Linked DNA regions of Homo sapiens. The protein of the gene in region 2 interacts with the protein of the main gene of each other region in a pairwise test. Each region holds a gene or a part of one and is shown on either strand. Other genes may lie near its edges.

What was found.
Region 1: the proteins of ANKRD27 (region 2) and RAB40B interact in a two-hybrid assay, tested with the Homo sapiens proteins (one study listed by BioGRID).

What each region holds. Positions count from the first base shown.
Region 1 is NC_000017.11:82,690,805-82,706,473, forward strand, and holds the start of RAB40B (ras-related protein Rab-40B), read right to left. Parts: upstream 7,895-15,669; 5' UTR 7,793-7,894; coding exon 7,651-7,792; intron 6,050-7,650; exon of another isoform or gene 5,585-6,049; intron 1-5,584. UniProt on the Homo sapiens protein: RAB40B small GTPase acts as substrate-recognition components of the ECS(RAB40B) E3 ubiquitin ligase complex which mediates the ubiquitination of target proteins.
Region 2 is NC_000019.10:32,599,120-32,614,310, forward strand, and holds part of ANKRD27 (ankyrin repeat domain-containing protein 27), read right to left. Parts: intron 9,351-15,191; exon of another isoform or gene 9,218-9,350; intron 8,714-9,217; coding exon 8,516-8,713; intron 6,836-8,515; coding exon 6,716-6,835; intron 5,306-6,715; coding exon 5,144-5,305; intron 3,008-5,143; coding exon 2,896-3,007; intron 932-2,895; coding exon 853-931; intron 658-852; coding exon 585-657; intron 1-584. UniProt on the Homo sapiens protein: May be a guanine exchange factor (GEF) for Rab21, Rab32 and Rab38 and regulate endosome dynamics.

The DNA.
Region 1 (15,669 bases), on a different chromosome or scaffold from region 2:
TTCCTGGGGAACAGAGAGTGTGCACGTGTGTCCAGGGGAAGATCTGCAGAATTGGAGAGAGACGGAGTGTGCACGTTTGCCCCGGGGGAGCATGGAGTGGGCACGCATGTCCCAGGGGAACATCTGTCCAAGGCAAAGAGGAAGGAGCAAACCCCAGCAACTGTGTCACTTTCCATAACGGAGGCTCTGATGCTCGTCTCCGGGAAGAAAAGCTCCCTCAGTGGAGCCTTCTCCCAACATTAAACATTGGAAACAGAGGGGAGGGCCAGGCCCTGCACCTGCACCCCGGTGTGTCCACGCACCGTGTAGTCTTGAGGGAGTGGCTCAGCCTCTCTGGGCCTCACAATATAACCTCTCTCAAGATGATTCCCCCTCTCAGTAAGTGAGGGTTATTATTATTAGCTCTTAGCAAAAATGAAACAAAGAAAGAACAATGGGACTTTTATGCTGGGAAAAGGACACTGAAGAAACAGCCAGGAGAAAGGATTGGAGAAGACAATGAGGCCCTCATGCTGGGGAAAAGGGTGGGAGGCAAGAGGTGGTGGCATCTGGTGTAGTTAATCCACCCCCCTCCCTGTCACCAATAAACATGTGCAAAAGGCCGGGCGCGGTGGCTCACGCCTGTAATCCCAGCTACTCGGGAGGCCCAGGCAGGCGGATTGCCTGAGGTCAGGAGTTCGAGACCAGCCTGACCAACATGGTGAAACCCCCATCTCTACTAAAAATACAAAAATTAGCCGGGCATGGTACACCTGTAATCCCAGCTACTCGGGGGGCTGAGGCAGGAGAATCACTTGAACCCAGGAGGCAGAGGTTGCAGTGAGCCGATGTGGCACCATTGCACTCCAGCCTGGGCGACAGAGCGAGACTCCATCTCAAAAAACAACAACAAAAAAATGGGCAAAAGGCAGAAAACTCAGCACTCAGAGAAGGGACACAATCTGGTGTTGGAAGCACCAGCTGGGGTGGCGGAAAGGCAGGGCCCTGCTGTGCCCCGACCATATCCTGGGCCAGCCTGGTGACGCCTTCCTTCTACCCCTGCCTGGAGAGAAATGGAACTTCCGAGGGGAAAGAGCGTGAACCGGGGACCCAGCTGCCAGACGGAAATGGGGTCCAGGCCACCAGGAACCAGGGGTACCAGCGTGTGTGAGGTGTGTTGCAGAACAGAAGACACTTCCCTGGGTAACCAGCAGAGCAGTGGGGCCCGCACGGTCCGTGGGCTGAGGTGACAGGCAGAGCAGTGGGGCCCGCACGGTCCGTGGGCTGAGGTGACAGGCAGAGCAGTGGGGCCCGCACGGTCCGTGGGCTGAGGTGACAGGCAGAGCAGTGGGGCCCGCACGGTCCGTGGGCTGAGGTGACAGGCAGAGCAGTGGGGCCCGCACGGTCCGTGGGCTGAGGTGACAGGCAGAGCAGTGGGGCCCGCACGGTCCGTGGGCTGAGGTGACAGGCAGAGCAGTGGGGTCCACATAGTCTGTGGAGTCAAGTTGCCGACAGGGTCCAAGATCCAAGAACTCTGCCCTGCAACTACAGACCGAGAGGAAGACAAACGCCCAGGAGGGAGAATCCAGGCCTCGCTGACCGTATCGGAGCAAAGGGAACACCTGGGCACAGCTGCCTGAGCAAGGACAAGATGCATCTGACTGCCCTGGCCAGCACAGGGCATGCCCATCCACAGAAGACAGAGTCTGACCCGGGGCACACACACAAGAGACAGGCGGGCCAACGGTGCAGACCCAGACCCACAGGCGGGCTCTCAGCTGGGACAACGGTGGCCGTGCGATGCGGGGTGGGGGTGGGGGGCATCCGACTGAAAAAAGTGTGTCTCGATCCCTGCCTCAGGCCTCACCCCAGCTGGAGGCAGCCATTCATGTCAAAGGTAAAACGATGCTTGTAGAGAACATTTTTTTTTTAAATCTGGGAGCAGCAAAGGTTTGTTCAACAGGACCCAAAGTCCTAACCACAAAACACTGATAATTTGGATTATGTTAAAATTAAGAGCTTCTGTTCATCCAAAAATACCACTGAAGGAGTGGAAAGGTGACGTGCAGATGAGAGTGGCTATCCAGGATCACACAGCCGACAAAGGACTCACAGCCAGAATCTATATTTTAAACACTCCTAGCAAGCATTGAAAGAAATTCAACCTAAATGAAAAAACAGACATAAGACTTGGGCATTTTTCTTCTTTCTGTTTCTATTTTTTTTCTTTTTTTTTGGAGACAGAGTCCCACTCTGTTGCCCAGGCTGGTGTGCAGTGGTGCGATCTCAGCTCACTGCAACCTCCGCCTCCCGGGTTCAAGTGCTTCTCCTGCCTCAGTCTCCCGAGTAGCTGGGAATACAGGTGCCCGCCACCACACCTGGCTAATTTTTTTTTGTATTTTTAGTAGAGATGGGGTTTCACCAAGTTAGCCAGGCTGGTCTCGAACTCTTGACCTCTGGTGATCCATCCGCCTCGGCCTCTGAAAGTGCTGGGATTGCAGACGTGAGCCACCAGGCCCGGCCGACTTGGGCATTTTTCCAAAGAGGAATTTCGCATAGACGTATGAAAAGGTGCTCAGTCATCAGAGAAATGCAAAGGCAAACTACACACCACAGAAGGACAGAGACAGCCCCGTGCTGAGAGGGAAGATGATGCAGCCGGGGCCTCCAGCTTTGCTGGTGGGAGCACCAAGTGAAAAATGCTTTGCGAGAATCTACTACAGGGAAACCTGTGCAGACATTTGCGTGCCTGATACCCAGCGATTCACACGCATAGGGACCTTTCAACAGAAATGCAAAGGATGTGTACTAGGAATGTTCATGGCAGAACAAACCATAATAGTCAGAAACCTGAAACCACCCAAATGCCCGTCACCCGCAGGATGGAGAATAAATCACGGTAGAGTCACAAAAGGGATGTCACCACCATGAGAATTAACACCCCACAGCCTCACACAACATGGGAGAGTCTCTTTCACATAACGGGGGCCAGAGACACAGTCACAGAAGTGCACATTGGCCAGGCGCAGTGGCTCACGCCTGTAATTCCAGCACTTTGGGAGGCCGAGGCGGGCAGATCACCTTAGGCCCGGAGTTCCAGACCATCCTGGCTAACAAAGTGAAACCCCGTCTCTACTAAAAATACAAAAATTAGCCAGGCGTGGTGGCGCACACCTGTAGTCCCAGCTACTCAGGAGGCTGAGACAGGAAAATCGCTTGAACCTGGGAGGCAGAGGTTGCAGTGAGCTGAGATCGTGCCACTGCACTCCAGCCTGGGCAACAGAGCGAGACTCCATCTCAAAAAAAAAAAAAAAAAAAAGGAAAACTCCAAAACTAAGAGAAAATTAGGAGACAAAAATAACATCTTTACTGAACTAATCAATAAGTTAGAAACAGCTAGAACAGTTTACTGAAATCAAAATTACCAACAAATAGGAAAGGCATAAGATAATCAGAAAAATTCAGGCCGCGCACTGTGGCTCACACCTGTAATCCCAGCACTTTGGGAGGCTGAGCTAAGCAGATCACCTGAGGTTAGGGGTTCGAGACCACCCTGGCCAACATGGAAACCCCGTCTCTACTAAAAATACAAAAACAAATTGGCCCAGTGTGGTGGCAGGCACCTGTAATCCCAGCTACCTGGGAGGTTGAAGCAGGCGAATCACTTGAACCTGGGAGGTGGAGGTTGCAGTGAGGTGAGATCACACCACTGCACTCCAACCTGGGCAACAGATTGAGACTACATCTAAGAAAAAAAAAATACATACACACACACATACACACACACACCTGGAAACTCAAAGAGTACGTTCATACTAAAAGTTTAACACAAACATTCAACTCTGAGACATGGTCTGGTTAAGCAGAAGAACTATGAGACAAAAAGAAAGAATTCCTCAGAAATTCATGAAGGGAAGGACAAGCCTCCACATGGGGAAAAATCAGCTGACCTCAGGCTTCCCCACAGCACATGTGAGCCAGGGGATGGTGGAATGACAGCTGCAAAGTGTTGGGGAAGAAAATAAATCTAAGAGTATTATACCCAGCCAAGATATCTCTACATTGTTCAAAGATAAAGACCATGGGCAGACATTCTCAGACACAAAAAAACACTCAGGAAATACTCGAGTCCTTCTGAAAAAACGACTGATAATGAAATCTAGGTGATTAAGAGGGACAGCACAATGAACAGAGACATAAATGGTAAAAGGACTTTGGTGAGCACTGACTGTATTTAAATGTTGAATTGATACTAAATCATTGCGGGCACTACAGCCACAATACAGAAGCAAGGGCTATAAACCTGGACAATATAAAAATAACAGCCTGGGCTACAAAACTCAGGAGGAATTGGGTGGAGGGAAATGGAGTGTGGAGTTACGAACGCCCTCATCTTTCTTTCTTTCTTTCTTTCTTTTTTTTTTTTCGAGACAAAATCTCACTCTGTCGCTGGGCTGGAGTGCAATGGTGTGATCTCAGCTCACTTCACCCTCCACCTCCTGGGTTCCAGCGATTCTCCTGCCTCAGCCTCCCAAGTAGCTGGGATTACAGGCACGCGGCACCACGCCCAGCTAATTTTTGTATTTTTAGTAGAGATAGGGTTTCACCATGTTGACCAGGCTGGTCTCAAACTCCTGACCTCATGACCCGCCCACCTTGGCCTCCCCAAGTGCTGGGATTACAGCTGTGAGCCACTGCGCCCGGCTGCCCTCACCTTTCAATAACAAGCACCTATAGTGTTTCTCAGCGAAACATGTCATTAAAAAAAAAAAAAAACATGGCCAGGTGCTGTGGCTCAGGCCTATAATCTCAGCATTTGAGGAGGCCAAAAAAGGAGGATGGCTTGAACCCAGGAGGGTCAAGGCTGCAGTGATCTGCAATCACACCACTGCACTCCAGCCTGGGCGGCAGAGAAGACCCTGTCTCTGAAAAAATAAAAAACAAAACATAATGATCTCAACTTCTTACTATTTTTCAGAATATCTTTTCTTAACTCTAAAACAAATATTTGGTAAATCAAAAACCTGCAAGGGTACACCCGTGATATCAGTTTTTTCTACAGCAGCTCAGGCCAAGTAGACAATAAAGCTCTTGATGGGATTTTTTTTTTAAGACAGAATTTCGCTCTTGTTGCCCAGGCTGGAGTACAATGGTGCGATCTCTGCAACCTCCGCCTCCCGGGTTCAAGCAATTCTCCTGCCTCAGCCTCCCGAGTAGCTGGGATTACAGACATGTGACACCATGCTCGGCTAATTTTTGTATTTATAGTAGAGACAGGGTTTCTCCATGTTGATCAGGCTGGTCTCGAACCCCTGACCTCAGGTGATCCGCCCGCCTTGGCCTCCCAAAGCCGGGATTACAGGTGTGAGCCACCGCCCCCGGCCCGGTGGGAGGTGTATTTTTAGCCTAAATCCTCCCTCCGTGTCAAGGGAAAGCCTTTATTACAAAGCATTGGACCATTGTTTTGGTTCGTCCTCAGTTCGGCATGTAGCAACCAAAAGTCACGCAGCAGAAGCATCCCCGAGCCTCCATTCAAACCAACCAGAAGGAAGTTTCACAAACATTCTGTGCGTGACCCTTCTCACACACGCCCCACGGCACTCACCTTCAATCAAACTCAACACTGTCAACCGTCTGCTCCCCCAAAACACGCACAGCTCTTAAAGCGCCATATTCGTCTGGGCGTACACGTTGTTGGGTGCTTTATTCCTGTAGCTCTGGTAGGGTTCATCCCTCACTGAGCCCAGACCCCGAGGGCACAGTGCAGACAAAGCCCTGTCCTCCAGGCGCTCAATCTCCAGCCCTGTCCTCCAGGCGCTCAATCTCCAGCCCTGTCCTCCAGGCGCTCAATCTCCAGCCCTGTCCTCCAGGCGCTCAATCTCCAGCCCTGTCCTCCAGGCGCTCAATCTCCAGCCCTGTCCTCCAGGCGCTCAATCTCCAGCCCTGTCCTCCAGGCGCTCAATCTCCAGCCCTGTCCTCCAGGCGCTCAATCTCCAGCCCTGTCCTCCAGGCGCTCAATCTCCAGGGCAGCGCTGGCCCTCGGACTTTGCCACAGCGACATCCGAACTATCTAGAAATGTGACGAATGGAAGCTTTTTGTTTTCTTTCCTTCTAATTACACTTCCACAGCCACACGTGGCTCATGGCATCCTACTGGACACCACGGTCCTAGAGACCTGCCACCGAGCGGGGAGGGGGGTAGGACATGCGGGGGCAGCGGCGCCTGGGGACAGGTAGAGACGCAGGCTCCCCTCCTGCCCCACGGAGCACACTCTGCACCCACCAGCTGCCAGAGACTCCCCCGCATGCTGCAGTTTCAGGAGGCCTCTGGGTGCTGGTCGTGAGCCCAAGCCCATCTCAGCTGCTCCCCCAAACTCTGCCCATTCCTCACCCCGTCCCCTAAGCTGAGGTGTGGCCGGGCACCTGAGTCCCACCCCACGCTCCACAGTCTCAGGCCACCCCCTCCAGCCGTGCCACACTCCCTTGGTGCTCACGCCGCCTGCCTGGAGCTGCCCTTAGGGGACAGCCTGCACCCTCTACCGAGCAGCCTCAGATCCCGCTTCCTCCCACCCTCTCCCGCTAAGTTCGTCTCTGGCAGGACCCTGGACCTGGGGCTTCCCAGACCCTTCCCAGGCCCCAGAGCTGACAGGTCCTTCCCACCAAGACTCCATCTCCACGCCCGGCTGCCCTCCTCCGCCCAGGACTCAGAGCGGGTCTCTGTTGGAAGCGTGGGTTCAGCCCCGAGGCGCGGCAGGAAGGTGGGCACAGGCTGGGCTCCTTCCACAGCCTCAGGGTCGGCCTCGTCCAAGCTGTTCCAGGGATGCGCGTGGGTGAAGGCCCCGCCTGCTCCTCACTCCCAGCCGAGGTGTTCGCCTCTGCGCGTTCCCCCTTCTCCTGGGTTCCTGCCCCCGCCTTTCTTTCCCCGGAGCCGTCCACCCCCTCGCCGGGCGCCGGCTTTCAAGCCTCAAACTTGGGGGATCCCCGGGCTGCCTGCCTGGGAGCTCTGGGCGCTCCGGCCTCCCCTCGCCCTGGAACCCGCTCTCCGGCCGCTGTCGTGGGGGGTCCCCTCTTCCGCACGCGAGTCACCTGTGCTCCTTCCTCTCCCCCGGACACGCGGGACCCCTGGCCTCGGGACCGGACCCTGGTCTCCCCTCCCCTCCGACCCACGCGCAGACCCAGCACCTGGGCGCCTGCTCGCCGCGCTCCGCCCCAGGAGCCCCGGAGCTCGCGTCCCCTCCCGCCCCTCCTGCCCCGCGGCCGAACGCGCACTTGCGGACTCGAGCCCCCGCCCCGGGTCCCCACAGCAGCGGCCCCAGGTCGGGAGGAGCCCAGCGCCCGGCCCAGCCGCGGGCTCCCGCTGCGCGCAGACTGCGGAGAAGGATGGAGACTGCGCCGCGGGGCCTCGAGTGGAACTGGGGGTGCAACAGGGACGCCGCAGCACGAGGGCCAGGGCCGGGCGGAGAAAGGCCCGCCCGCGAACCGCGCTCCTCCTCAGCCCCGCGCCCCCGGACCGGGACTCCTACCCTCCCCGGCCACGCGCCCCGGCCTCTTCCCGACCCCTGCCCGGTCTCGCGTCCCCGGACCCGGACCCCCACCCGCACCCCCTCCCCAGCCCCGCGCCCCTCCCCGGCCCCGCGCCCGCACCCCGGCACGCCCTCCGCCCGCGCTCACCCGCCGGGTGGCCGTACGGGGACTCGGCCGCGCCATCCTGCAGGCTCGCCAGGATCTCGCCCTTGCCCACGTCGCTGTCGCCCACCAGCAGGAACTTGAGCAGAAAGTCGTAGGCCCGGACCGGGCTGCCCAGGGCGCTCATCGTGACGGCCCGGCGCCCCCACCCATGCCCGGCCTGCGGGGCTGAGCGCAGAGGCGGCGGCCCGGCCCCGAGAGGCGCCGCGCGGGCCCCGAGTCCTTGCTCGCCTCCGGCCCCGCCCCGCCGCCCAGCGCTGACAGCGCGCATCCCCGCCCGGCCCCGCCATTGGTGGACCGCAGTTGCTAGGGCAGCTGCGCGCTTTCACTGGCTTGGTTGTCCGTCCATCTTACTCTCGTCACCGCCTCCGGGCTGTCGCCCACCCGCCCCTCCTGAAAGGTCGCTGTCACCACAGCCAATGGAGGCCCGGAGACGGGGCAGGGGCGGAGCCAGAACAAGCAGGAGGCGGGGACTCTGCTCCCGCAGCCAATGGCGGGGCGGGGTGGGGGCGATCAGGGGGTGGGGCCGGGTGTTTACACTCTCGCGTGCGCCCGTGAGCGCCACGAACTCGCTCCCACGGTCGTCGGGTCTGCACGCCCCGAGTCGGGAGGGGCGAGGGGCGGTGCAGGGTCCCAGCGTGGGGCCTCCCCACCTGCCCACCAGGGAGACCTCGGGTGCCTGGCCGGGTGGGGCTCGGGGTCGGTCCAGTTGGCGGACGCGGCCGGAAGGCCCCCGCAGGCCGCCTCGCCGGAGGAGTCCCTGTCGCCGTAGAATCCAGGCTCGCGGTCTCTCCCCACGGTTCATCCAGGGCCTCGTCGTTGCCCCATTTACGCGGCGTGCCTGAATGCCTGTGTGTGCACATGCGCCTGTGTACGTGTGCATGTGTTCGTGTGTGTGCATGTCTGCGTGTGCATGTGTGCCTCTGCAGATATCTGCACATGTATGTGTCTGCGTGTGCATGTGTCCCTCTGCAGGTGTCTGCACATCTATGTGTCTGCGTGTGCATGTGTCCCTCTGCAGGTGTCTGCACATGTATGTGCGTGTGCATGTGTCCCTCTGCAGATGTCTGCACATCTGTGTGTCTGCGTGTGCATGTGTGCCTCTGCAGGTGTCTGCACATGTATGTGCGTGTGCATGTGTGCCTTTGCAGGCATCTTTGCATGTGTGTGTCTGCGTGTGCTGCTTCTATGCATGCGCTCCTATGTGTGCGTGCGCTTGTTTGTGCATCCATGCATGTGTTTGCGTGCGTGCTGGAGGAGAGCATTGGGTGGGACCCTCCAGCCTTTTGGCTTCTCCTCTGCTCTAGAGAGCAAGGGTTGCCAGGCCGAGGTCTGCCCTTCGCTCTGAGGGTCTCACCAGGTGCACATTGGTTTATTTGGTGCAGAATTCAGGCAGCAGGCAAAGGGCGAGCTCCGTCCAAGAAGAAGGATAATGCCCCCACTACTTCATCCCCTCCACCCTGCGTTGTGTAGGGAACTGCTCTAGACCCCATTAGAAGTTTTTTGTGGGGGAGGAACAGAAGAGGGAGCGGAAGAAGAATTACAAAAGAGACTGAAGTCAAGATTATTATATTTGTCATTTGCATTCATTTGGACCTAGAAAATGTTTACTTTGGAATGCCAATTTAGTTTGCAACACCTGTTATTCATTGGTTGATTAGTTGCTTTAGTTACTAATGCAGCCACATTTTTTTTTTTTTGAGACAGAGTCTTGCTCTGTTGCCCAGGCTGGAGTGCAGTGATGTAATCTTGGCTCACTGCAACTTCCACCTCCTGGATTCAAGCCTCCCAAGTAGCTAGGATTACAGGCATGTGCCACCACACCCAGCTAATTTTTGCATTTTTAGTAGAGATGGGATTTTGCCATGTTGGCCAGGCTGGTCTTTGACTCCTGACCTCAAGTGATCGACCTCGGCCTCCCAAAATGCTGGGATTGCAGCACTGTTTTTTTTTAGAAGGAAGGTCAGAGGAAGAAAAGAGGATGGAAGGTGGACGCTAGAAAACTATGAGAAAGATGGCATTTAGTCCCCAGCCCCACCACTCTGCCAAAAAGAATTCAGGGGAGTTTCCTTCCCATCCCTAACCCTCAGTCTCCATGTTCCAATCAGCTGTGGGTCACATGGCTATTACCTAGTGAGGAAAGGGTACCTTCTTTTGCTCGCTCCCCACCTACACATCCAGACTCACTGTACAATAGGGGTCAGGAGGCCCCCAGCCCACCCTCGGGGTCACACCCAGCAGTCCAGCAGTGTTCACGGTGGGGCATGGAGAGGGGTGGCCAGACCACTTCCTACAGAGGACAGGTGATGGGGGAGCCCTTGTCTGCTCTTCTCCTGCCCCACAGAAGGTCCTCACCACCTCCTAGTTGTCACCTCCAAGCTGGCCTTGGCTGAGCTGGAACATGGCCACTCCCACCTGGAGGGCCAGGTAAAATAACCACGTCAGAAGAGGGCTGTGTTCAGATATGGTGTCCATCTTCTTGCCCCAAACATTGCTTTCACCAAACAGAGGTGTTTATTTCTACAGCCAAAGCAGGTTTCCTCCCACCAGGGCCCCCAGTTTCCTGAGGGACAGTCCTGTGGTGGGATACCTCTTCCTCCTCCCCAGTTTCAGTACATGTGTAAAGTCCAGGCAGAGGGTGGAGGTGTCTGGACAGCACTAGCCTACCTTCTGCCCAACTCAGAGCCAGGCTTCCAGACCTGTCCATCTCGGATCATCGGAACATTCCTCCCTGTGGCCACGCTGAAATCTCCTTGAACATCCACCCACCCATGATCTGGGGCTGCTCTGGAGACTAGGCCTCTGTGGGCAGAAGGAATGAAAGGAACATTTACTGATGCTTCTCCACGAGTAAAATGTCATCAGAAGGTGGAGGTGAGGCCGGGCGTGGTGGCTCATGCTTGTAATCCCAGCACTTTGGGAAGCCAAGGTGGGTGGATCACTTGAGGTCAGGAGTTCGAGACCAGCCTGGTTAACGTAGCAAAACCCCATCTCTACTAAAAATACAAAAATTAGCTGAGCACGGTGGCGCTAGCCTGTAGTCCCAGCTACTCAGGAGGCTGAGGCAGGAGAATTGCTTGAACCCAGGAGGCAGAGGTTGTAGTGAGCCGCTGTCACACCACTGGACTCCGGCCTGGGCAACAGAGTGAGATGCTATCTTAAAAAAAAAAAAAAAAAGGCCGGGCGCGGTGGCTCAAGCCTGTAATCCCAGCACTTTGGGAGGCCAAGGCGGGTGGATCACGAGTTCAGGAGATCGAGACTATCCTGGCTAACACGGTGAAACCCCGTCTCTACTAAAAATACAAAAAAATTAGCCGGGCGTGGTGGCAGGCGCCTGTAGTCCCAGCTATTTGGGAGTCAGAAGAATGGCGTGAAACAGGGAGGCGGAGCTTGCAGTGAGCCAAGATCGTGCCACTGCACTCCAGCTGGGGTGAGAGAGCGAGACTCCGTCTCAAAAAAAAAAAAGTCATCTTGTTTAGGCTTGTCTGCAGTCGTGAGAAAACAGGAGACAAAGGTTCACCACGTATGAAGTTTTGGTTGTCTGGGTTGAATGGAGTCCCTAAAAAGATTTATTGAAATCACACCCTCTGGAAGCTGTGACTGTGACCTTAGTTGGAAATACTTTGGTCTTTGCAGATGTAATCAGGTTAGGAGGAGGTCCGTAGGGTGGGCTCTAATCCAATAGGACCATGAAAGGGTCTCAGAGACCTGTGGGGGCCCATGGGCCCCACTGTGAAAACTGCTGCTCTGAGCCATGCCTGTGCTCCTGCCAACTCCTGCCTGTGACCATGTAGGTGTGGCCCACGAGGAGACTCCAGCAGTGAGATGTGAGGGCGTCTGCTGGGGGTTCGCAAACAGGAACGCAGACTCCAAGTCTCCTCTCAGCGTCTGGGCACTGTGGGCCCACCCACGAGCCTCCTGTCCTGTGATACAGAGCAGCTCCCTGGTGCCACCTCCAGATGGATTTTCTGTTGCTGGAAGTTAAACCAGCCTCAGTAATTCACATAATATCTATTTCAGCATTTTCCCACGGAGGGGGCACAGGGAGGGGGCATTTTTCTTTTTTCTTCTTCCAAATTTAGCTTGAAGGCTAACATGTTTTTCATTTTTAAAATAGTTCCGTCTGTGATGTGCAAACAGTGGAAATGCAACTTGAACCAGCCTAAGCACGATGTCGATTTTATGGAAGGATGGTTGGGAGTGTCTCCTGTGAGCTGGGAAGGGCTGACCGGCTGTGCTGTGGGAAGGGCCAGGTGTGGCCGGCCTGGAAGTAGCTGAGCCAGGGACCCAGTGCCGGCGAGGCCGGCCCACCTGCCGCCTTTGTTCCTCCCACGGTGCCCGCTGGTCTTCCTGTCGCTGCAGAGGGGCTCCCTCCTCACAGGAGAAAACATGGCCCCCAGGTTTCACCCCTTGGAGAGAGAACGGCCTCACTCACTCTCAGGTCTGATCCCCAAATTCCCATATAAGGGAATTCCCCAGTGGGGATCAGTGCCCACCTCCGGGTGAATCAACTACATTGGGGGTCTCATCATGCTTGGGGCCCCGCATCTCTGCATCTTAGTGCGTCCTCTGAGCGCACGGAACTGAAACCCCAGCAGATGACGCAGCTTCCAGCCGGGAGGGCCAGCGGGGGCAGAGGCAACAAGGTCACAGCTGGATGAGGCTGGTGGGCGAGGCAGAGGCCGTCGCCAGGCCCCTCTCTGCTCTCCCCTGCACTACGGGACCCCTGCACCGCTGCCCCTCACACAGTCCCCTCTTCCCTTCAGAAGCAGAGCCCCCCGCCAGTGGTTCCCACGCTGGAGCAGGGCACAGCGGCCACACCCAGAGGCTCCCATTCAGCACTGGGGGCCCAGGAATCTGCATTTGCAACGTGGTTACAGATGGTGGTGATGCTACAGCTCCAGGAACCCCACTTTGAGAACTAAGTGGGAGGGGATCTCTCCAAACATGGCTGCACCAGCGCCCACCCCCGACGGGAGACAGCACGTGCCTTCCGAGTGCTCATAGGGGAAGCCTGCGTCCGCCTTCCAGCCCTGTGGTCTCTGGTCTTCCCAGCGGGTGAGGGCCCCGGGCACTGGCTCTGCCCTTTGGGCACAGCAGGGAGGGTTCGGGGATGGCTGCTGGCCGTGGCTGGGACATAAGAGACCCAGGATGAGTGCTTGGGGCGCTTCTCCATCCACCCTTGAGACCCCTCAGGCCCCACCTTATTGTCTCACCTGACTCCCCCCAAACCCCACCTCAAACCTGACCCCCACCTGACCCTCACCTCAAACCTGACCCCCGCTCAACCCCCACCTCTCACCATACCTCTCACCCAACCCCCACCCAACTCCCACCTCTCACTCGACCCCCACCTCTCACCCAACCCCCACTCGACCCCCACCCAACCCTCACCTGACCTCTTCACACCCCCACCTCAAACCTGACCCCCACCTCTCACTCTATCCTCACCCCTCACCTGACCCCACCCGACCTGCACCTCCAACCTGACTCTCACCCAATCCTCCACTCTTATCCGACCCCCACCTGACCCCTACCCAACCCTCACCTGACCTCTTCACACCCCCACCTCTACTGCAGTCCGGCGGAGCCCACGTGCCCTACTCACACTGGCTGCGCCTCCTGGCACCGCTGAGCTCATGGCCCTGTTGTGTTCTGCTCCTGCCCCATGTGAGGGCACAGCCCACGTCTGCTCTTCTCAGCTGTTTTGCTGAGGACACCAGACGATGTGTTTCTGGAATACTCCATGCCACTCCAGCACCTGAAAAAACCAGGCCCCCGTTTTGCACGTGCGTGGCCCTTCTCACTGGGTCAGCGCCCCTGGGTCCTTCAGGACTCCACCCGGGGGTCGACAGCTCCGGCAGGAAGCCCCTCTGCCCTGGTCCCATCAGAACCATCAGTGGACACACCTGTCGCCTCCAGGGCGGGGCTGACCACAGGGCAATGCTGCCACACCTCCCCGGGGAGTGAACTTTGACTTCTCCTCCACACTGACTGTGCAGCCCTGGAAGGTTTGTAGTGAACTTGTAGAAAACGGAAAACGTGACCCTGCCTGGCCCAGCGGTTTTGGTCCTGTGGACCCAGCAGCCTGGCGTCTGACTTAGCAATTCTGTGTCACTGCTGCTTCCACCGGCTGCAGAATCGGGGCTTTCAGGAACGTCTCCAGCCAGCTCCTGAGTCTTTCCGGGCCCCCCACTCATGACCCGGGTGAACCTAACGTGCGTTCACCTCCCATTTATGTGAGGGTGACGTTCTAACAACTTGAGACCACGACCATGCCCAGGGGAGTGTGGGCTCTCTGCAGGCATCCGGCGCGTTTCCAGACACAGCTGAGGCCGGACGTGCTGGGTCAGTGAGGGCTGAGATGTGCAGCCTCGGGCCTTTCCTGGGACACTCCCCCGACCCTGCCTGTCATCCCGACATGCCCCTCAGCATTCCTACACTCATAGGAATGAGTCCTGCACTCATAGGAAATGGGGGGCTCAGGCAGGTGGGTGGTCTGTCCTCAGGACAACCCAAATCCCCGACCCAAACCTCTTCACTCCCGTCTCGTGCTCACCACCGTGCAGCCTCTTAATGAACCACCTCCCACCCCTCGGAGCCAGGCAGGGCGCGCTGTGCATGGGGATGGGTCTGAGCTGGTCTTGAGTCGGTGGAACCCTGGAAGAAGTGGCTCCGTCATTCTCGTTGCCATGGGCCATCTGGCCCTGCAGGTGTGGATCGGGGACAGTGAGGATGCAGGACTGGTCTGCAGCTGCAGAGTCCAAAGACGGGAGCCCAAAGTCCCCATCTTCAAAGACTATCACTTTGCAGGTAGAGTTCCAGTGGATTAATCTGGGGGCACACAAACATTTGGTCCATAAAAGACTATCACTTTGCAGGTACAGTTCCAGTAGATTAATCTGGGGGCACACAAACATTTGGTCCACAATAGGGCCCATGGTGGGGGGGGGACCTGGGCACCACCGAGGGTGGAAGCAAGTTGTGGAATGTGGAGCCCACCCCATTAGAGCCTGGGCAGGGAGGTGGGTGCGGCTGTCCCTCGGCCTCTGGTCCAGGGGCCCTTGGATGGCCCTCAGCACTAAGCGAGGGTGTCTCCAACCCAGCCCGTGGATGCGTGGGGCCGAGGGTTCTTGGTTGGGGTGCACCTGAGCACTGTGGGGTGTTGGGCAGTGTCCTGGCCCCCGTACGTTAGATGCCAGCAACACTGCCACCTCCTACAACAATCAGAAATGCTCCCAGAATTGTCAAAGTGGGGGGTGCTGCCCTTCCCAACAGTTGAAGAGCACTGGTTGACAGAAATTTGATTTCCATGTGGCAGCCTCTCTCCCGAGAGCCTCATCCTGTCCCCACACTGCAAGGCGTGTTCCCAAGGTTGGGCTCCGTCCTGGTGGCTCCCGCCGGCATCTCCTGGGCAGCTGTGACTGCTGTGTCCACCGGGCCGGGGTGTCTGCCGTAGCCCAGCATGCAGTGGAGAGGATGGCCACGGGGACAGCGGGGCTGGGGGCAAGGGAGGATCCAGAAGCATCCGGCCTGGGGCCGACGGGTAGTGACCATCTCAGGGCATCCGAGGTTCACCCACGTTCGCCTCCCAGAAACCCTGAGAGGTGGAGGTTATCATTCCTGCTGCTGCCTGAGGAAACAGGGACTCAGAGAAACCGTGCTGGTCACTGTCCTGCCTCGGCCTCCCTCGCTGGAGCTGGTCAGCACTGCAGCGCAGCCCCAGCCTTGTTTGGTTTTTATTTTATTTTATTTATTTTGAGATGGAGTCTCGCTCTGTCTCCCAGGCTGGAGTGCAATGGCGCGATCTCGGCCCACCGCAACCTCTGCCTCCTGTGTTCAAGTGATTCTCCTGCCTCGGCCTCCCAAGTAGCTGGGATTACAGGCATGAGCCACCACACCCGGCTAATTTTTGTATTTTTAGTAGAGACAGGTTTTCTCTGTGTTGGCCAGGCTGGTCTCGAACTCCTGACCTCAAGTGATCTACCTGCCTTGGCTTGCCAA
Region 2 (15,191 bases):
AAATACAAAAAAATTAGCCAGGAATAGTGGCACATGCCTGTAATCCCAGCTACTCAGGAGGCTGAGGCGGGAGAATGCTTGAACCCGGGAGGTGGAGACTGCAGTGAGCCGAGATCGTGCCACTGCACTCCAGCCTGGGCCACAGAGCAAGACTCTGTCTCAAATAAATAAATAAAAAAATGTAGTGGGAAGATGGCCACATAAAGAATTGTCTGAGCAACTGTACACCATACTTGGAGACATCATTTACCCATCTATATACAAACTGTCGTTTTCTTTCTTTGGTGATTAAAACCATAGTGAAATGTGGGATGTTTCATCTCCTATAAGCACCAAGACCTGTGGTTTCCCACACATGTAACACTTTCCACTCCTCTGCTCAGAAATGTACTTTTAGTTATAACAATCAGTGAAGTCTGTACTCTACACTGTCCCATGAAATAATTCCAGTTTTAACTGCTGCTAACTCATACGGCGCACGGAATAATGAAGATGACGATCAAGGAGACGTGTTTACCATGGATTACTTTTGACAAAGCCGGGCTTTAGAAAATATGATTAAAAGCCAGTGTTTAATAACTTACCTCATGCAAAGAACCTTCGGTTAAATTAGGGACACTTCTATCTCTTGCCATAATCTCCCTTGAAGTCTTTCCCCTAAAACCCAAAATAAACGAAAATAAATATTTGGGACAGTGGCATGAAACACTCTGGTTGGCCACAAGGTGGCAGCATTTTTGACATTAGTAGGTGCAGATTTGTCCATAACCAATTACAATTGAAGCAGCTTACGTGCAGCTTGGAGTAAACTAGGGGCAAAAGCACAGAAATCAACTTGAGTTTCATACTCACTTAAACTGACCAGCTGAGTGGACAAAGTAAAACTGTCTTGTAAAAGGCTCATCTGGTAGATCATACAGTTTTGAGTTCCCTGTAGATAAAAAGATAAACATCTAAAAACTTCAAAAACAGTTGTAAAGATTATTTTAAAATTACAGCACAGACACAATCTTTCTATTCTCAGATTTACAAAATTTAGAAACTGAAGCACTGAATTTGCTTAAAGAAACACAGCTAGTACCTATTTATAACAGGTTGAGTATCTCCAATCCAAAAATCTAAAGCCTAAAATGCCACAGGCTGGGTGCAGTGGCTCATGCCTGTAATCCCAGCAGTTTGGGAGGCCGAGGTGGGCATATCACTTGAGGTCAGGAGTTCAAGACCAGCCTGGGCAACATGGAGAAACCCCATCTCTACCCAAAATACAAAAACTTAGCCAGGCGTGGTGGCACGCACCTATAATCCCAGCTACTCAAGAGGCTGAGGCAGGAGACTCGCTTGAACCCAGGAGGCAGAGGTTGCAGTGAGCCGAGATTGCACCACCACACTCCAGCCTGGGCGACAGAGCAAGACTCCATCTCAAAAAAAAGCTACAAAATCCGAGACATTTTGAACTCTTTGACTTCATGCTCAGAAGAATCTGATTTCCTGATTTGGATCCTCAACCAATGAGTATAATGCAAATATTCCAAAACCCAAAACACTGCTGGTCCCAAGCATTTGAGATAGGGGGTAGTCAGCCTGTATTATGAGAACCCCCATGAAATAGAAAAATAAAACCTTAACTCCCTTAACTCCCCCAGCCACAACCAATTACGGTGAGACAGTCTCAGGGTTATCGAGATATGTGAATGGGTTTATCCATATTATTGTATTGCATTATTGCATACCTCACTGGATAATATTTCATATTGTAAATTAAAAAAAAAAGTAGAACAAGGACCCCTTCTAAACTTTTTAAAAAGAAGAAAATACTTCAGTCTCACTGCTGTTCGGCAACTGCTGTTTTAATTATAATCAACCTCCGTACACGTACAAACTTAAAAAAAAATCTTGAGGCCAGGCGCGGTGGCTCACACCTGTAACTCCAGCACTTTGGGAGGCCAAGGAGGGCGGATCACTTGAGGTCAGGAGTTTGAGACCAGCCTGGCCAACATTGTGAAACCCTGTCTCTACTAAAAATACAAAAATTAGCCAGGCATGGTGGCACGTGCCTGTAATCCTAGCTACTCGGGAGGCTGAGGAAGGGGAATAACTTGAACCCAGGAGGCAGAGGTTGCGTGAGCTGAGATTGCACCACTGCGCTCCAGCCTGGGTGACAGAGTGAGACTCTGTCTCAAAAAAACTAACTAAATAAAAAATCTTGGTGGCTCACACCTGTAATCTCAGCACTTTGGGAGGCCAAGGCGGGCAGATCACGAGGTCAGGAGATGGAGACCATCCTGGCTAACACGGTGAAGCCCCTCTCTACTAAAAATACAAAAACAAAATTAGCTGGGCGTGGTGGCTGGCACCTGTAGTCCCAGCTACTTGAGAGTGGGAGGCAGCTACTTGAGGCAGGAGAATGGCGTGAACCCAGGAGGCAGAGCTGGCAGTGAGCTGAGATCACACTACTGCACTCCAGCCTGGGTGACAGAGCGAGACTCTGTCTCAAAAAAAAAAAAAAAAAAAAAATCTTGAAAGGTAGCATTTACCCTGGATGTCCAGGAAATGCCCAGAACACCTGACTTTGGAACATGAGGCATGAAAGAAACTATCCCAGAGACTGTTCCCCATCTCCATAGGCAGACACCTGAACCTTCAAGGTAGTGTTGACAGTTTCTATCCTATTTCCTCAGGAAACATCATTACCATCAACCAGAAAACTAGTAACAAAAAAAGCTTACCCATAGTCTGATAAATTGGGAGGTAACATACATTTCTTTGGTGCCTGTATCTCCTCCAGGCATGATTATAATTACACTTTACATATACAATTAAATGAACACCAGCAACTACTCATGAATGTCTAAATATACCCAACTTGAGCGTGACAGAAAGAACGTAAACTCTTACATTTTTTCCTGATCTTAACAGTGACATACTCCTTGCGGTCAGTTTCAGCCACATCATCTAATGAAGCAACACAGCTTGGTACCACCTGAAGCAATTCCATTATTTTTGAATTCTGCAATTTGAAAGGGAAAAGGAACAGTAATGTTTTTATTCTTTTTTAATAGGTTATTATTTGTTTTTGATCTAAATGTCAGTATTAGTGTGACTGGGCAGAAAAAGCTCAGAAATAATTACAAATGGAGCTTGGAGGCCATAAAGCCCAGTGGTAAAAGCAGGCCTGCATGGGGAGCCCGGCTCTGCTTTTACCACTGGGTAAAAGCTCTGCCCTCTCTGTGGACTCCACGCTGGGGATTCAACCACTCCATGCAACCAGCTCAACCATAATAAGATCTACTATCATATGCTTATCATGAGGCTGTTGAGGGCCCCCATATAGTAAGTACTCATTGAAACACATTAATTAACTGGGCACGGTGGCTCACGCGTGCAATCCCACCACTTTGGGAGACTGAGGTGGGAGGATTGCTTGAGCCCAGGTGTTCAAGACTAGCCTGGGCAACATAGCAAGGCCCTGTCTCTATTTAAAAATAATAAAAGGCCAGGCGCGATGGCTCACGCCTGTAATCTCAGCACTTTTGAGAGGCCGAGGCGGGTGGATTGCTTGAGCCCAGGCAGTCGAGACCAGCCTGGCCAACATGGCAAAACCCTGTCTCTATTAAAAAAAAATTAGCTGGTCATGGTGGCACACGCCTATAGTCCCAGCTACTTGGGAGGCTGAGGTTGGAGGATCATCTGCGCCCAAAGGTTAAGGCTGCAGTGAGCCAAGATTGCACCATTATACTCCAGCCTGGGCAACAAATTGAGACTCTGTCTCAAAAAATAATAATAATAATAAAATTAAAAATTTTAAAAACCAAAAAAAATTCAACATAATCATTTAAGAAAGTACTAAACTGAGAGTTTAAAATATTTCAATTCTGTCACTGAAAATTAATATAAGGAGGCCAGGCACAGTGGCTCACGTCTGTAATCCCAGCACTTCGGGATGCCAAGGGAGGCGGATCAGTTAGGTCAGGTGTTCAAGACCAGCCTGAGCAATATGGTGAAACCCGTCTCTACAAAAAATACAAAAATTTAGCCAGGTGTGGTGCCACGTGCCTGTAATCCCAGCTACTCAGGAGGCTGAGGCACGAGAATCGCTTGAACCCAGGAGGCAGAGGTTGCAGTGAGCCAAGATCACGCCACAACAGAGCAAGACTCTGTCTTAAGAAACAAAAAATTACTCTAAGGAGCCTGTCCATGGAGTGGATTGATGGTGATGTTAGCTTCTCAGTTGTGTCACTTAACAGCCTACTCGCTGTCTATCTTGGGTAGAAAACAAAAGAAAGACTCAGCAGGAAAACAGGAACAGAAAGAGCTGCCGCTCGCCAGGGGAAAAGGACCCTTCCCCGCCGCTCTCCACGCAAGCATCCACAGCACTGGAGAAGGCAGTAGGCCAATAATCACGATTCCTACAGGACTCAAGGACTTTTACTTTCATTTTTTTGAGATAAAGTCTCTGTCACCCAGGCTGGAGTGCAGTGGCACAATCTCAGCTCACTACAGCCTTGACCTCCTGGGCTCAAGCGATCCTCCCACCTCAGCCTCCTGAGTAGCTGGGACTACAGGCATGCACCCCTATGCTCGGCTGATTTTTTGATTTTTTGTAGAGAGGGGGTCTCACTATGTTGCCCAGGCTGGTCATGAGCTCCTGCGCTCAAGTGATCCTCCTTCCTTGGCCTCCCAAAGTGCTGGGATTACAGGCATGAGCCACTGTGCCTGGCCTCAAGGAGTTTTAAATCCACCAACAAAACAAACCTTCTCCATCGTGCTGCTAAGACAACGGCTGTGTTCACACTGTGAGGATGGTGACACCAGAACATCATGACTTGCTCCTTCCTGAGTGCCTGACTCTATGTAACTACCGGACCACAGCCCTACTGCTAGCTGAGGGGGGGGCCCCTCCACTCAGGCCTTTGAAAACCACCTGTGAAAAGAATGATTCCTGGTTCCCAGAGCACCACCTCTGACCAGGAGACTGAGGACCAGCCATCTACCCACGCTGTGGACTTCTGGCACACCAACTACGCCCAGCCCGGCGATGCCAAGGGCCAGGTGTTGCTATTTTAGATCCAGCTTAAACAAAGGGATCCAGAGGGAGCTGTGAGGAGCTCAGGATTCCCTCGGCTCTTCGACCCTCTCCACCTACCTGTTCAGCACAGTCTACAGCCGTGCGCTGCCGCTTGTTCAGCACCTGAACTGACGCTCCGTGGAGCAGAAGCAGCTCTACCACGAAGACGTGCTTTTCAATCACAGCCTCGTGCAGCGCTGTGTTGCCCTTATTGTTAGAAGCGTTAATGGAGGCCCCGTGCTGGAAAGAGAAACCACACGATCAAAAGGAACGCTACGAAACGTCAGCATGGAATCTGGCTGTGGGTATACAGGTATTCGCTATAAAACACATTGTTTTTTTTATGTCTGAAAGTTTCCTTAAAATTTGGGGAGGAAAAGTAATACTGAGAAAAAAAGATTTATAGACAAAGAGTTCGCTGCAGCATTTATCCTAATAGCAGAGAAAACAGAAGCCACTTAAATGTACAGAGCAGAAACAGGTTCAAAAAAATCACTATGGTATATCCATAGTTATGCAACCATTAAAAATCAAAGTTTGAGTAAATAAGTTTCTACATTAAATAACATTAAGACAGAAAACAATACTTGGGGCCAGGCACAGTGGCCCATGCCTATAATCCCAGCACTTTGGGAGGCAGAGGCAGGTGGATCACCTGAGGTCAGGAGTTCAAGACCAGCCTGGCCAACATAGTGAAATCCCATCTCTACTAAAAAAAAACACCAAAAAACAAAAAAATTAGCTGGGCATGGTGGTGGGCGCCTGTAGTTCCAGCTATTCGGGAGGCTGAGGCAGGAGAATCGCTTGAACCCCGGAGGCAGAGGTTGCAGTGAGCTGAGAGTAAGCCACTGCATTCCTAGGTGACAGAGCGAGACTCCATCTCGGAAAAAGAGAAAACAATACTTGGCGAGGCCCCGTGGCTTACACCCGTAATCCAGCACTTTAGGAGGCCAGTGCAAGAGGATCGTTGGAGCTCAGGAGTTTGAGACCAGCCTGGGCAACATAGTGAGACCCCCATCTCTACTAAAAACAAACAGCAAAAACTAGCCAGGTGCAGTGGTATGTATCTGTAGTCCCAGTTAGCTGGGAGGCTGAGGCACCTGAGCCTGGGAGACTGAGGCTGCAGTGAGCTGTGAGGGTGCCATTGCATTCCAGCCTGGGCCACAGAGCAAGACCTTGTCTCAAAAAAAAATTAATAAATAACACTGAAACTATACACATTTGTCAAAAGTCCACCATAATGAGTTTCCCTTGAGTAGCACAGTCATGGACAGGTTGGTTTTTCCCTACTTCTTTAAGAAATTCTAATGCATTCACATAACCTTTTTCAAGAGCAGCAGGGACAGAGGCGGCCACTCAGCCCATGCTCAGGTAACAGCGTGACACATTCCCGGTCGGTGAGGTGAGACCCAAACCCTTGGCAAAAGCAGCGTCGGAGCCCTTGAGACCGCATCCCAGATGCTGGGGCACCATCTGTTCCCATCGGAGAACCCCGTGTGGGAAGACGCACGCCCTGCTCCTCTCCCCAGAGGCCTGGGGTTGATGGGTGGCCGGGCCTCTCCATCCCCAGTGCGCTGCGGGGGTCGCTGGGTGGAGGCGCCCTGTTAACTGGCGCAGGTGTGTAGAATGAGGACAGGAAGGGGCCCTCACCTGTAGCAGCAGTGCCACAAGCTCGTGATGGCCACCGGAGCAGGCGTAAATGAGGGGCGTGTTTCCACTGAGGTCCTTCTTATTGGGTTTTGCATTCGAATCTAACAGACACTTCACCACCTGGGCCAGAGAAGGAAAACGTGCAAACTTAATCAAAATTTCTGTCATTTCCTGCCAGAGAAAAATTATGAAAAATAAATAAATAAATAAATAAAATAAGAAAACAAAGTTTCTGGAGAGAAATGCTCAAGTTTGATATTCTTTTGACTTGTCTCTGAGCTTATTTTTTTGTTGTTGTTCTTTTTGGTTTTTCTTTCTTTTTTTTTTTTTTTTTTCCAGACAGAGTCTCGCTCTGTCGCCCAGGCTGGAGTGCAGTGGCGTGATCTTGGCTTACTCCAGCCTCCGCCTCCCAGGTTCAACTGATTCTCACGCCTCAGCCTCCTGAGCAGCTGGGACTACAGGCGCCTGCCACCACGCTTGGCTAATTTTCTGTATTTTCAGTAGAGACGGGGTTTCACCATGTTGGCAGGGCTGGCCTCGAACTCTTGACCTCAGGTGATCCACCCGTCTCGGCCTCCCAAAATGCTGGGATTACAGGCATGAGCCACCACGCCCAGCCGTCTCTGAGCTTATTGAGAAGACTTTAGACTCTCAGGAGAAAAGGGACCAGGTGAAGAGGGGAGGGCTACCATCTGCTGCGGGGCTGCTCTGTGCGGTTGAAGCGCAGGGTGACAGTGATCTCACTTCACCCGATGTGCTGGGCGACAGTGATCTCACTTCACCTTTCTATCCTTTCTACCTCAGGGAGAGCTGCAATCGCCACTCCGAATTTACAGATTAGGAAAGCCATGCCTGAAGCTCTATGCTAGGTGTTGGCGAGAGAGATGCAAGACCTGAAATATGGCTCCTTTCTTTAAAAAGTTAACAGTAGAACTGATAAAGGAAAATGAAAAAATATACACACAGTTTTCCTTAAAGAAAAGCAGGGCCTGGTGCTGTGGCTCATCCCTGTAATCCCAGTACTTTGGGAAGCCAAGGTGGGAGGATCGCTTGAGCTCAGGAGTTCAACACCAGTCTGGACAACATGGTGAAACCCCATCTCCACAAAAAAAAAAAAAAAAAAAAAAAAAAAAAAAAAAAGAAAAATTTATCTAGGTGTGGTGGTGCACGCCTGTGGTCCCAGCTACTAGGGAGGGAGGCTGAGATGGGAGGATTGTTTGAGCCCAGGAGATTGAGGCTGCAGTGTGAGCTGAGATTGCACCACTGCACTCCCACGCTCCAGCCTGGGAGACAGAGCAAGGTGATGTCTTAAAAAAAAAAAAAAAAAAAAAAGGCAAAAAACCCCAGCACTTTCAAAAAGTTAATCACTCCAAAATTCAAAATTCTTCCTTGAGCCCCTCTATGGGGCCCTGACTGTTCTTTATGAAGTGCTGAACTGTTTGGCCCAGAGCAAGGCACTGTCGGGGTGTAAAGGTGGTAAGATGACCATGGGGACAGTGCTCGGTGGCCACCACACGAGCTCAAGAGCCAGATCCTGCTGGGGGCAAGAATCAGAATGACAACCTCGGTATCACCCAGATGGGAGTGGCAGTGGGGCAGGGACTGGCTCCACCCCCAGGGAGCATCAAGGCTCTGTGCTCCGAGGCTGAGTGGCCTACCGTGTGCACCTCAGAATCTCAGGGCTCGGGGGAGCAGTGTCCTCCAGGGTAGCCACCAAACCCCTGCAGCGTTCCTACCAAGCACAAGGTCCTAGCCCAAAGCAGACACCCTGCTCCACCACCCCCAACACACAGCCCGAACCTGAAAGTGGCCCTGCTGGCAGGCCAGGTGGAGCGGGACGGCTTGGTCTGCGTTCCTGGCACCTGCGTTGGCCCCGTGCTTCAGCAGGAGGGGGATGAGGTCCGCCCGGCCGTGCAGGGCGGCGACATGCAGCGGGGAGGAGCCGTCCTGGCTGGTCACGTTCACACCAAGCCCACTGGCAGGAACCTTCGCCAGCCTCTGGGAAGCGCAGAAGATGGAAACACAAACGTCATCAGTATTGAAGAAACTGGGCTGGAGTGATTGGCACCATGTGCCCCCCACAGCTCCCACACACAATGCGGGATCATGGCGGGATCCAGGATGGATTCCAATTTGTTTAGAAGTATGTGGCATGCCAAAAAACAACTTCCTTTTTTTTTTTTTGAGACAGGGTCTCACTCTGTTGCCCAGGCTGGAGTGCAGTGGCACCACCATCATGGCTCACTACAGCCTCGACCTCCTAGGCTCAAGTGATCCTCCCGCCTCAGCCTCCCAAGTAGCTAGGTCCACAGGTGCAAGCCATTGTGCCCAGCTAATTTTTTTTTTTTTTTTTTTTTGTAGAGATGGGGTCTCACCAGCTGGCCCAGGCTGGTCTTGAACTCCCAGGTTCATGTGGTCCTCCCACCTCAGCCTCCCAAAGTGCTGAGACTGCAGATGTATGCCACTGTACCTGGCTAATTTCACTTTTTTTTTTTTCACCAGGGCTGTAGAGCCTCCAAATTTCCTTTGAGGGGCATGGCCACAGCCCCGCAAAGGCGACGAGATTCACTTGCTGTTTGCACCTCTGTTTAAACCACCGCTATAAGAAACAGTGATTCTTGGGTTTAGGTGAGAATAATTTTACTTTTTGATGATTAAAAATGTTACCTCTTTAAAAAAAAAAACTGTATGCTAAATTAAAGGCTGAATTTTATTATATGTAAATTATATCTCAAAAATAAAAAAGAAGCTGGAAAACACACATGTGCACATACATACACACACTAAATGAAATACCCTGCATATTTATCAGAATGGCTAAAGTTAAAAACTCAAGGCTGGGCACAGTGGCTCATGCCTGTAATCCCAACACTTTGAGAGTCCGAGGTGGGCAGATCACCTGAGGTCAGGAGTTCTAGACCATCCTGGCCAACATGGTGAAACCCCGTCTCTACCAAAAATACAAAAATTACCCAGGTGTGGCGGCACCTGCCTGTAATCCCAGCTACATTACAGGCATGCATTGGGCTGTAGAATCGCTCAAACCCAGGAGGCGAAGGTTGCAGTGAGCCAAGATCACACCACTGCACTCCATCCAGCCTGGCTCACTGCAATCTCTGCCTCTCCGGTTCAAGCGAATTCTCCTGCCTCAGCCTCCCAAGTAGCTGGGATTACAGGCGTGTGCCACCACACCTGGCTGATTTTTGTATTTGTAGTAGAGACAGGGTTTTGCCACGTTGGCTAGGCTGGGCAACAGAGCGAGACTCCATCTCCAAAAAAAAAAAAAAAAGTCAAAATACCAAATGTTGGCAGGGATGTGGAGCAACTGGAATGCTCAAACCCTGCTGGAGGGAACAGAAACTACTCCAACCACTTTGGAAAACTGGCAGTTTCTTTTAAGGTTAAACATATCCTTACTATATAATCCAGCAATTATACTCCTAGGTGTTTACCCAACAACGTATATATCCACACAAAGGCCTGTAACTCCTAGGTGTTTACCCACCAACGTATATATCCACACAAAGGCCTGTACACAAATGTTCACAATGGCTTTATTTACAAATCCAGAAGCAGGAAAACTACTCAGATGTCCATTAACAGGTGAATGAAACAACAAATTCTGGTGTGTCCACCCAATCAACTACTATCCAGCAATGAACTCCTGATCCAACATGGGTCTCAAAAATATCCTGAGTCAAAGAAGGCAGACATGAAAAGGGACATGCGTTAGAATTCCACTTACAAAAGATTCTCGAAAGTGTTAACTAATCCATGATGATGAAAAGCAGGTCACGGGTTGCCTGGGAGAGGCGATGGGGGAATGGGGGGGTCATAGTGGGGGGGAAGGCAAAATCTCACAGGAAACTCTTGCAAGTGAGGGAAACGTTGTGTATCTTGATGGTGGTGATGGTTTCACAGGTTTATATATCTGTAAAACTTGCCAAATTGTATACTTTAAATACATATGCTTTATGTAAATATAAATTATATAAATTATAATGTATATAATTATATTTCAATAAAAGATTTAAAAACAAATTCTAAAACACCACTGGAGACCGGGTGTGGTGGCTCACGCCTATAATCTCAGCACTTTGGGAGGCTGAGGCAGGAGGATCGCTTGGGCCCAGGAGTTCGAAACCAGCCTGGACAACACAGCCAAGACCCTGTCTCTACAAAAATAAAAAAAATAGGCCAGCAAGGTAGCTTACGCCTGTAATGCCAGCACTTTCGGGAGGCCGAGGCAGGTGGATCATGAGGTCAAGAGATCGAGACCATCCTGGCCAACATGGTGAAACTCCGTCTCTACTAAAAATACAAAAATTAGCTGGGCATGGTGGCGCATGCCTGTAGTCCCAGCTACTCAGGAAGCTGAGGTAGGAGAATTGCTTGAACCCAGGAGGCAGAGGTTGCAGTGAGCCGAGATGGCGCCACTGCACTCCAGCCTGGCGACAGAGCAAGACCCTGTCTCAAAAAATAAATAAATAAATAAAATAAAATAGCCCAGCATGGTGGTACGTGCCTGTAGTTCCAACCATTTGGGAGGCTGAGGCAAAAGGATCCCTTGGGCCCAAGAGTTTGAGGCTTCAGTGAGCTATGATTGCAACACTGCACTCTGGCCTTGGTGACAGACCAAGACCGTCTCTAAAAAAAAAAAAAAAAAAAAAGTTTAGGCCAAGCGCAGTGGCTCATGCCTATAATCCCAGCACTTTGGGAGGCTGAGGCAAGCGGATCACTTGAGGTCAGGAGTTTGAGACCAGCATGGCCAATATGGCAAAACCCTGTCTCTACTAAAAATACAAAAATTAGCCAGGTGTGGCGGCATGCACCTGTAGTCCCAGCTACTCGGGAGGCTGAGGCAGAAGAATGTCTTGAACCCGAGAGGCAGAGGTTGCAGTGAGCCAATATTGCACCACTGTACTCCAGCCTGGGCGACAGAGGGAGACTCCGTCTCAAAAAAGAAAAAAAAGAAGTAATACATTAAACACCACTGGAGGCCTGGTGTGGTGGCTCATGCCTGTAATTCCAGGACTTTGGGAGGCTGGGGCAGGAGGATCACTTGAGCCCAGGAGTCCCAAGCTGTAAGTGAGCTATGATTGTGCCACTGCACTCCAGCCTGGGTGACAGAGTGAAACCCCATCTCTAAAAATTAAAATAAAATAAAATAAAATAAAATAAATCACTGGGCTAGAAGAGGATGGGGGGAGTGGATTTTCATTTAATCACAGACATGAAGCAGTTTAGTGGTGTGTCTTTTTGAGAAATCACAAAAAGAGAATAAGAGGTTTTAGAAGTACAGGGAACCTAAGACTTCACCCAATTGAGTTCCACAGTATTTTACTGTGTAATTAAAGTGGGAAAACACAGGGAGGAGAAAAATGGCAAAAACAGCAGCAGCGGAGATGCAGCAATCTCGCCACACACAGGTACTGAGGGCCCGAGGGCTTCATCACTTCCCACCAGATGCTAGGGAACACCATCTGCCTTTCTTATCCTGTGTTTTCATAGCCACCCACCTCGGGGAAATTGTGTTCTGGACCATGTGCATCCAGCAGCAGGGGGCCAGGTCAAAAGGTGCACATCCCCAGTGTACATGTTACCTCACAGCTGAAAAATGTGTGAGGGAAAACTTTAGTCATTTTCAATATCCTTAGAGTCACCCACGCTGAAGTTCTTTTTAGAAATGGTAAAATTATCCTACAATATAAAGGCTAACACCACTCTATCTATTTTATAAAGTCAAATCCATTTTCTTTTTTTTGAGATGGAGTTTCACTCTTGTTCCCCAGGCTAGAGTGCAATGGCACGATCTCGGCTCACCGCAACCTCCGCCTCCTGGGTTCAAGCGATTCTCCTGCCTCAGCCTCCCGAGTAGCTGGGATTACAGGCATGCACCACCACGGCCAGCTAATTTTGTATTTTTAGTAGGGATGGGGTTTCTCCATGTTGGTCAGGCTGGTCTCGAATTCCTGACCTCAGGTGATCTACCCGCCTCGGCCTCCCAAAGTGCTGGGATTACAGGCGTGAGCCATCGTGCCCGGCCAAATTCATTTTCTATTTTCTATTTTATATTTTTAGTTTCTTAGAGACAGGGTCTTACTCTGTTGGCCAGGCTGGTCTCAAACTCCTGGCCTCAAGTGATCCTCTAACCTCGGCCTCCCAAAGTGTTGGGATTACAGGTGTATGACACTGAGCCCAGCCTAATTCTCTTAGTATGGGACATACACATCTATAATTAGATAGCTAACACATGAATGCATGCTATGTATGCAATACCATTTACAACTGCTTGAAAGAAGATGAAATACTGAGGTGTACACTTAACATGACACAGGCAGGATCTGTATGCTGAAAAAAAATCACAAAATGTTGATGAAAGAAGTCAAAGAAGGCCTAAATACTTGGAGAGATGTACCATGTTCATGAAGACTCAACATACGTTGAGTCATATGATGTTATTTCTCCCCAGTTCATCTATAGGTTTAATGTAATTCCTATCAAAATCCGAGCAAGGTATTTTGTAGACATACAAAAACTAATTCTAAAATTGATATAGCTCAGACCAGTCTGGGTACTATAAGAGTGAGTAAGTTAGTAAGTAAGCAATAGGTAAATAAATAAATAAAATTTACATGGCAAGGCACAGGCCATAGAATAGCTGAAATATTCCTGGCAAAGAAGAATAAATTAGGAAGAATCATTCAATCCAATACTGAGGCTTACTACACAGCATCAGTCATCAAGACAGCGCGGTACTGGTAGGATGGGCCCATAGATCAATGCAGCAGAACAGAGAACCCAGAAATAGATCCACACAATCTATAGCCAACTGAGGTGCAAAGGCAAGTCACGGGAGGAAGGAGAGGCTTTTCAACAAATGGTGCTGGCGCAAGTGGACACTTGTAGGCAAGAAAAAACAAAGAAGAACCTCAACCTAAATCTCACACTTTGAGTAAAAATTAACACAAATTGGATCATGGACTTAACTATAAAATATAAAATTATAACTTAAAAAAAACAGGAGAAAGTTGGAAATCTAGAGCAAGGCAAAGAATTCTCAGACTTGACACCAAAAGTATAATCCATAAAAGGAAATACTGACAAATGAGATGTCTAAAAACCTTTTTCTCTGTGAAAGCCCATGTGAGGAAATTATAGACAAGCTACAGACTGAAAGAAAATGTCTGCAAAGCACGTATCTAACAAATATCCACATATCTAGAATATATAAATTCAACGATAAAGCCAAAAACAAACCAATTAGAAAATGGGCAAAACAAATGAACAGACATTTCACTGAAGAACATATACAGATGGCAAATAAGCCCATGAAAAGCTGTTCAACAGCATCAGCCATTAGAGAAATGCAAATTAAGGCCACACTGAGATAGTACTACACACCTATCTGAATGGCTAAAACAGAAAATAATGACCACACCCAGTGCTGGGGAGGACGAGGAGGAACTGGATCACTCATACATCGCTGGTGGGCATGTAAAATGATACAGCCTGCTTGGGAAAAGACTGTCAGTTCCTTATAAAAATGAACCATGGAATTGCCATGCAATGACCATATGACTCCACAATTGCACTCTTGGGCACTTATCCTAGAAAAATGAAAACTTGTGTTCTTACCGAAACGTCTACTCTAATGTTTGTTCGTGGCAGTTTTATTGGTAATATTCCCCAAACTAGCAACAAACTACATGTCCTTGGACATTCCACAGTGAGTATATGCCACCATTAAACAAATGGAATGCCACCCCGCCATGGAGAAACAGACCTGATTCTAGGCAACAGTGTGGAATCAAACGGAGTGAAGAAAGTCAATCCCAAAAGGATTGTATACTGTGATTACATTTATGTAACTTTTTTTTTTTTTTTTTTTTGAGACGGAGTCTTGCTCTGTTGCCCAGGCTGGAGTGCGGTGGCACAATCTCGGCTCACTGCAAGCCCTGCCTCCCGGGTTCACGCCATTCTCCTGCCTCAGCCTCCCGAGTAGCTGGGACTAGAAGCGCCCGCCACCACGCCCAGCTAATTTTTTGTATATTTAGTAGAGACGGGGTTTCACCATGTTAGCCAGGATGGTCTTGATCTTCTAACTTCGTGATCCACCTGCCTCGGCCTCCCAAAGTGCTGGGATTACAGGCATAAGCCACTTATGTAACGTTTTTGAAGTGACAGGATTAGGGAAATGGAGAACAGGTAAGTGGTTGCCAGCGGTTGGGGATGGTGGGGTGGGCGTGGCAGGGAGAGAGGTGGGTGTGGCTGTAAGAGGGCAGTTTGAATGATTGGTCTTGTGAGAGAACTGTGCTTTCCGGTGACAGACACATGCTGCGTCTTGATGGTGGTGATGGCTTCACAGGTTTTACATCTGTAAAAGCTCACCAAGTTGTATAAATACATAGACTTTATTGTCTGTGAATTATACTTCGATAAAGGATTTAAAGACCAATTCTAAAACACTGGGCTA